Homo sapiens: one gene and its partner. The protein of the gene in region 1 purifies or fractionates together with the protein of each later gene. This does not show direct contact. Each region holds a gene or a part of one and is shown on either strand. Other genes may lie near its edges. The genes, in order: SLC36A1 and MYH14.

The links.
Region 2: the proteins of SLC36A1 (region 1) and MYH14 purify together in Homo sapiens (affinity purification with mass spectrometry; one large-scale study listed by BioGRID and IntAct). This does not show direct contact.

The regions. Positions count from the first base shown.
Region 1 is NC_000005.10:151,457,531-151,461,345, reverse strand, and holds part of SLC36A1 (proton-coupled amino acid transporter 1), read right to left. Parts: exon of another isoform or gene 2,647-3,815; coding exon of another isoform or gene 2,554-2,646; coding exon 2,411-2,553; intron 1-2,410. UniProt on the Homo sapiens protein: Electrogenic proton/amino acid symporter with selectivity for small apolar L-amino acids, their D-enantiomers and selected amino acid derivatives such as 4-aminobutanoate/GABA.
Region 2 is NC_000019.10:50,307,828-50,311,352, reverse strand, and holds the end of MYH14 (myosin-14), read right to left. Parts: intron 2,349-3,525; coding exon 2,176-2,348; intron 1,714-2,175; coding exon 1,563-1,713; 3' UTR 813-1,562; downstream 1-812. UniProt on the Homo sapiens protein: Cellular myosin that appears to play a role in cytokinesis, cell shape, and specialized functions such as secretion and capping.

The DNA of each region.
Region 1 (3,815 bases):
TGGTAACATCAAGTGTTAGTAAATAACCTCACTGAACACACTAAGAAATAATTCACAGGTCAGGCATGGTGCTCATGCCTATAATCCAAGCACTTTGGGAGGCCGAGGCAGGCGGATCACTTGAGCCCAGGTGTTTAAGACTAAGTGGGCAACATAGCAAAACCCTATCTCTACAAAAAAAAAAAAAAAAATACAAAAAGTAGCCAGGAGCATGCCTGTAGTCTCAGCTACTTAGGAAACTAAGGTGGGAGGATCACTTGAGCCCAGGAGATGGAGGTTGCAGTGAGCCATGATTGTGCCAGTGCACTCCAGCCTGGACAACAGAGCAAGACCCTGTCTCAAAAAAATAAAAGGAAGTAACCCATGAAACTCATGGAAGTGTTTGGGGTTCCTATTTGCACCCCCTAACTAGGGGTTTTTGCTGAGCCCTTGACTTCTAGAAGAGCCAGGTGTGTGCATGCATATGTGCAGTAGGTGTAGAAGTACTTCCATGTATTTTGTTCCTTGGCAAACTAGATAAAAGGGTGGGGCAAACCAGAAATATAAAAGGAACCCAGCTCAAAAACTTGTCTCTAACACTTCCGACATATTAAAATATTAATTTAGGTTAAGAAGGTCCTCCAAATCAACCTCTACCTTAATCATACCTGGCATGTTTTCTATATAAATCCTTGCGTGGATCCTATGCCCCAGGCTGGAAGTACTCAACCAGTCCTCTAAGCCCCAGCAAATTACTTTATCTTGTACCACCTGTGATGGGACTGTAATACCTGCCATCAACTACAGATAGGCTTCCCTGGTCACCTACACTGTATCACAACATCAAGGCAGGAAGGGAAACTCGGAACAAAGTATACCCTGGAAAATGTCACAATACAAGCCTGAGGAAGGTATCTTCTGATTTGTTCGATTTCCAAGAAACAAGGACATAATTTTGTCCAAAACCTATGAGCTACTATCCTAAAGTTGCTAGTTGGTAGGTTTTGAGCTTCAGAGATGTCTCTATAAACATAAAAATCCAGACCTCATCTGCTAAATATTGCTTAGACAAGTTGATATCTGAGATCAAAAAGGAGCAAAAACTGCAAAGGAAACTACAGAGAAGGAAGCTTAGAAGTATCTTACGATAACAAGCATGACCTCTGAAGGGAAGCCATCACATGCCATTGGCTGTGTGTGGAGATGCTTCTGCATGGGGGCTGCCAATGCTGATAAGGTTGGAGGAAAGAGGGGCAGGGTGATCCACACTGCTGCCAGCTGTGCTCTAAGCAATCTACCACCAGCTAACTCCCACTGCAGGCTAATGGGGAATCTACAAAAGCATACCCCTGAGAAATAAGCTACAGAAACAGAATCTTAGAGGACTGGTTGAGTACTTCCAGCCTGAGGCATAGAAATCAGCTAGTGGTGGTGACGGGCCAGGAATGTGGACAGACATTCTTCTAGTTCCACCCCAGTTCGCAAGAGAAAATGCCCTGTACCAGCAGACAGTGCAGGCAGAGGGAGCTTCTCCAGTGATGAGCCCAGAAGCTTCCATGGTCCGCTTGGGCAGTCATCAGGAATGGCATAAGTCTAGGACATGAAGGATCTCTCAGTAAGTCACACTCAGTCCACAAGAAAACACAGAAAAGGTAATAGCTAAGCTTGAGGAATAAACAGGACTGCAAAAGCTGAGATGCTGGGACACAGAGAAAAGTCAGAGGTCTGCTGAAATCAGGAGTAGCTGGGAAACTAACTCAATGGAGTAGCAAAACTTCCTCTGAATTTTCTAATTCAAGTGGTGAGCCCCACACAGCCAGCATAGCTTTGTGGTGGAGTCCTCAATTTTTCTTTACATTTGGGGAAAGTGAGACCTGAAGCGGGCCAAACTCAGCCCAAATGAGTCTGGGGTCCCAGTTTCTGGAGACAAGAGATTAAGCCCTCTTTGGAGAATGCAAAGTCTATCTTTCCTTTCCTACCAACCCTGAATTTTTTAAGTGCAGAAGTTAATTCTTCTCTCTTCCCACTTCTTCAGTCAAATGAATACTGATTTGGTGATGGGGCAGAATTCGGGGGGAGACTTTGCAAAGGAAGCTTCCGATTATGCTTGGAAATTATTTGGGGTTCTAGCACAGATGACACACTTTTAAATTAAAAGAATGTCCTCTGTAGAAGCTTTTTTTAAGTCCAAGCTCTCACTTGGCACCAGCCTTGGGGGGCCAACACAGCTGAAAGGAAAAAAGAGTAAGAAACTGCCTAGAGAGTGGCAGCCCAGGAAGGCAAATCTCAGCGCAGTCACTCGCCCAATCTCTTCACTGCTGACCTTCATCTGTAAAGTGGAGGACTGATGAAATTGGGGGGAAAAATAAGTCCAAGGGAGGCTTAGGAACACGAATCCCACCCAGGAGAGGAGAAGGTAACAGCTACTCACGTTGTGCTATTGCTTTGACCAAAGCGCTGGTAGGAGCCCGGGGAGGAGAGGTTGTTGAGGCCTTCCGACGGGCTCTCCTCAGGGCTCACGTCCGTGGAGCTGTAGTCGTGGTAGTCTTCATTCCGAAGTCTCTGCGTGGACATGGCAGCTGGGGGGACAGGGCCAGCATTAAGACCTCCTGCAGCTGGAGCCTTTAGCTCCATATTTGGGGTGGCCTCTGGGGTAGAAGCTGTCATTGTCAGAGTTGCTCACTGTGACAGCTCCACTATGGATTAAGTATGAAAGTGCCTGGTACCAAGGGAAATGGAAAAGTGCAAAGTACACAGAGGCGGGCTGAGTTCACTTGACTTCTGACTCCCATCCTTCCCATTGGTATACGTGGTGCTACACTCATAAATTTCTTAATTTTCCGGAGTACAGCTAGACAAGGCAGAAGTGAGGCACTGCTTGGGAGGAGTGGGGGAAAATGAAAGAGAAGTGCTTCCTGGAATTCCGCATTCCCTATTCCTTAGGTCAGGATTATCTACTCCTTTCTGAGATAATGTCTTGGACCTTGTGCAATAGTTCAATCGTGTGTGTATATATATATATATAAATATCCCATATATATATATATATATATACGTATATACACGTGTATGTATATATATACACGTATACACATATACACACGTATATATATATATGTACAAGCTCTTGGGGGGATGGAAATCTGGGTATTTCTCATCGTATACTCTTTTTCCTCTGCCTTCAATAGAGAACACATTTCACTCAAGAAATCCTCTCTGGGCTGGGTGTGGTGGCTCACGCCTGCAACCCCAGCACTTTGGGAGGCCAAGGCGGGCGGATCACCTGAGGTCCGGAGTTCAAGACCAGCCTGAGTAACATGGAGAAACCCCGTCTCTACTAAAAATACAAAATTAGCCGGGCGTGGTGGTGCATGCCTGTAATCCCAGCTACTCGGGAGGCTGAGGCAGGAGAATCGCTTGAAACCGGGAGGCGGAGGTTGTGGTGAGCCGAGATCGTGCCATTGCACTCCAGCCTGGGCGACAAGAGCGAAACTCCATCTCAAAAAAAAAAACAAACAAACAACAAAAAAAAAGAAAACAGAAATCCCCTCTGGATCATCCAATTCTGCTGAAACTCCCACCAAATCCCAGAGCCACACATGCCGTTCTCTTTCTCTCTGCTGTGACCACAGGCTGATCCTATACTCTCTGGAGGCCACCAGTAACTCTTATACCCTGACCCTGGGACTCCTTTCTTGCTGCCAACCTGAGTACTGAGAAATGGTAGCTGAAAGCAGCTCAGAGGAGGACCAGGAAACTGAAAGGTGCTCACCCTGGCCCTCGTCTCAACATCTCCCATCCACAACTCTTCTTCCTTTTTATTTTTATAGATGTGC
Region 2 (3,525 bases), on another chromosome or scaffold:
AAGGTGGGGTCAGGGGCTGAGGGCTCAGCCTCTATATGTGCTGACTCTGAGGCCAGACTGTCTGGGTTCAAACTGTTTCAACTTCTTAGTAGCTGTGTGTCCTTGGGCAAGTCACTCAGCCTCTCTGAGCCTGTTTCCACCACTCTAAAAGGGTGGGAGGGGCATCACTTAGTTATTCAGCAAATATTGAGTGAATGCCTGCTGTGTGCCAGACACTGTTCTAGGCACTGGAGTGCAATGAAATCTCTACCTGTAGTGCTATGTAAGGGTTAAGATAAACTGTGTGCTTAGCACAGCACGCAGCACAAACGACCACGGCTGTCTTTTTGTTTTGTTTTGCTTTTGGGACAGGATCTCACTCTTCACCCATGCTACAGTGCAGTGATGCAATCATAGCTCACTGCAGCCTCCACCCCCTGGGCTCAAGTGATCCTCCCACCTCAGCCTCCCGAAGCACTGGGATCACAGGTATGAGCCACTGCAGCAGGCCTGTCATTTATTTTGCAAAACTTAAGAGTTGGCCCGAGTGCAACACCCCTTCTAGCACTCACTGGGGGCGTGGAGTGAGGGATGCTGCTGCTCTGAGACTGTTCCCTCATCTGTATAATGCAGGGAATATTTCCATTATACACTGGAGTCAGGAGGAAAGGAGTTATGAAGCGCCTGATCCACAGGATGTCCCTGTATACCCACGCAGGTGTCATTCTAACCAGCAGGCTGCCTGACCTGCTGCCCTAGCAGGCTGAAGCAGCCTGTGCCCATCCTGCCCCATCAGAGACCCCCTGCAGGAACACACACAGCCACAGAGATGGTCCAGTCGGGTTGGAGTTTATTTCTGCCAGAGCCTGGAGGCTGGGAGGGTAAAGGACACTCCTTTAGTCCCAGAGGGAAGCTCCGAACCCTCAGAGCAACCAGAAGGGAGGGCAGAGCATGGGCAGCAGCAGGAGTGAGAGGGGTCCCCTTGTCCTGCCCCTTTGCAAGGGTTCAAGGCTGGTGGAGGCCTGGGGCTTCTGTCGCTCAGGAGTTCAGGGGTGGACGCAGAAATGGGGGAAGGAGAGTGGCTACGTAGAGAGTGAGAGCGAGATTCCTAAAAAGATGCACAGAGAGACCCTCAGAGAGGCCAAGAAAGATGGTGAGAGGGTAGGGAAGGAGAGGGAGGGAGAGAGAGAGAGAGAGAGAGAAGCAGAGGGAATGGGTTGCACTGGCTGAGGATGGTGGAGGAGCCGTCTCACTCCCTTCCTAATGTCTATAGATCAATAACGAGGGAAGAAAGGAGGACAGGGAGCTGATGGAAACACAGCTTGCCAACTGTACCCAGTCCCCCAACAAGCAAGGTAGCTCCAGTCATTGCCTCCCTGCCTGCCCCGCTCCTCTGTGTTTAGGGGTCATCCTTTGATGGGAGGTTGCAGGGGACCCAGGTGGGGGTGATAAATGCCAGAGTGCTGCACCATTTCCAAAGGGCAAGAAGTCAGAGGGCGGGGTTCCTGGGACAGGGGCCCGTGGGGTCCAGGGAGGAAGGGGGCTGGGCCCCATCTGTTAGTGCATCTGGGGACAGGGTAGGGTCACTGGGGGTGGGCTGGTGGGGACCCCTCAGGCTCCGGGGATGGCCCAGACCCAGGCTGTGCTTCCTCTGCCTCCTCGTCGGATGCCACGCCCTCCTCTAGTCGGAAGACCTGGCGCACCGTGCGGGTGGTGAAGGTGAGGGGGCCGCGTCTGTGGGGAGGAGAGACCAGGATACAGAGATGAAATGAGGGGAGGGGAGGGGAGGAGAAAGGGGGAGGAGAGAGAGAGATGAGGGGGAGAGAGAGAGAGATAGGAAGAGAGAGAACAAAATAAGGGGGAAGAGAGGGATGAGATCAAGAGAAATGGAGGGAGACGGGCAGAAGCAATGGGGGGCAGAGAGAGATGAAGGACACACAGAGAGGAGGAAAGGAGAGAAAGGTGGTGGTGCACGGTGGGAAAGGAGGGCACAGAGATGACAGGGAGAAATGGGTGTGGGAAGAAAGAAGTTACCTGGATTTGGCTCTCCCGCAACACAGCCGCTGCTCCCACAGCCCCACACCCCCGTGGATCCCATTTCCCCCTGTTGTTGCCCCTGGCACGGCCTCGCGTCCCTGGGGTTTATGGAGTTAGGGTGCTCCCCACCCGTCAGGCCTGTACGTGGGATGACCATACCGAAGCCGGTTCCTCAGTGTGGTCACTTCACGGTTCATGGACTCGGCCGACTCTGTGACATCTTCCAGCTCACGCTGCAGCCTCCGGCGGCCGGCCTGAGCCCGGGATGCCTCCTCCTCGGCCTCCTCCAGCTGCCGCTTCAGCTGCTTGACTCGAAGGTTTCCCTTCTCCAGCTTGATGGAAGCAGGGGGACTGGGTTATATCTCCAGGTACTGTCATCACTCCCTCCCTCTCCAACAGCCCACTACTGCCCCATCCCTACTGCCCCCTGACTCTCTCTGCCCCATCCTCTGCTCTCTGTTTAGGCCTTGTTCTTTTCTCCTAAATCCCTCATGCCAGCCTCTACCCTGACCTCCAGTCTCTCCCCTCCAGGTTGTCTCCTACATGGCCTCAGAAAGGTCTTCCTATACCCAGAGCTGACCCAGACCCTCCTGCTCACAATCCTTTCATGGCTCCCCAGTACCCCCGGGACAAGGTTCCAGCCCCTCAGCCTGGCATTCCAGGCCCCACAGGGTCTTTTTCTTGTCCAGTTCTCTCTTCCCATAAACCCACTGTCCAGACCAACTTCACTGAGATCCTCCCCAGACCCTACCACCTCTCTCTTCAGGGAGGGAACATACATGATCTGACCTCATTTCTTATCGTTCAGCCTTCCTATCCCACATTTTCTGGAGTCAATGAGCTCCCATCACAAGAAGCAACGTGCAGGTGCTGGACTGGAAGTGAGTGCAGATACCATCCTGGCACTTGGCACATCAGCAGAGGGTTGGAATCAATGACTTCGCAATTTATAAATTCTGGCATCTAGGAAGGGCCCTTGTAGGGAGCTGAGGCAGCCAAAGTGAGGGAAGAAGTTAAACTCTACCAAGAAGCTAGACCAGGACTAAAATAACAACAGATGTTTATCTAGACCATACTAATCTGCTTTTTGTTCTGAACTCACCAAACGTATTTCTATTCTTCAAGGCCTTTATACTTGCTGTTCCCTCTGACTGGCTCTTTTTCACCCTTCAGGTATCAATTTAAATGTCACCTTCTCAAAGAGTTCTTCCTGATCTCCCAACCTGAAGAGGATTCCCCAATCCTCTGTGTCTTCCTCTCTCTTCACTTTTTTTCTTCATAGCCCTTGTCACAATCTGTAATTATCTGCTTGTTTACAGGTTTATTACGTCTCATCCTATGCAGAAAATGTGAGCTCCATGAGGGCAGGGACTTCCTCTGTTTCGTTCACATCCATATCCCTAATGCCTACCACAGTGTCTGGCACATAGCAGGTGCTCAATAATTGTTTGTGGAATGAATGGCGAATAAAGCACAGCTGAGCTTTTAAGGGCAGAGGGACTCTGTCCA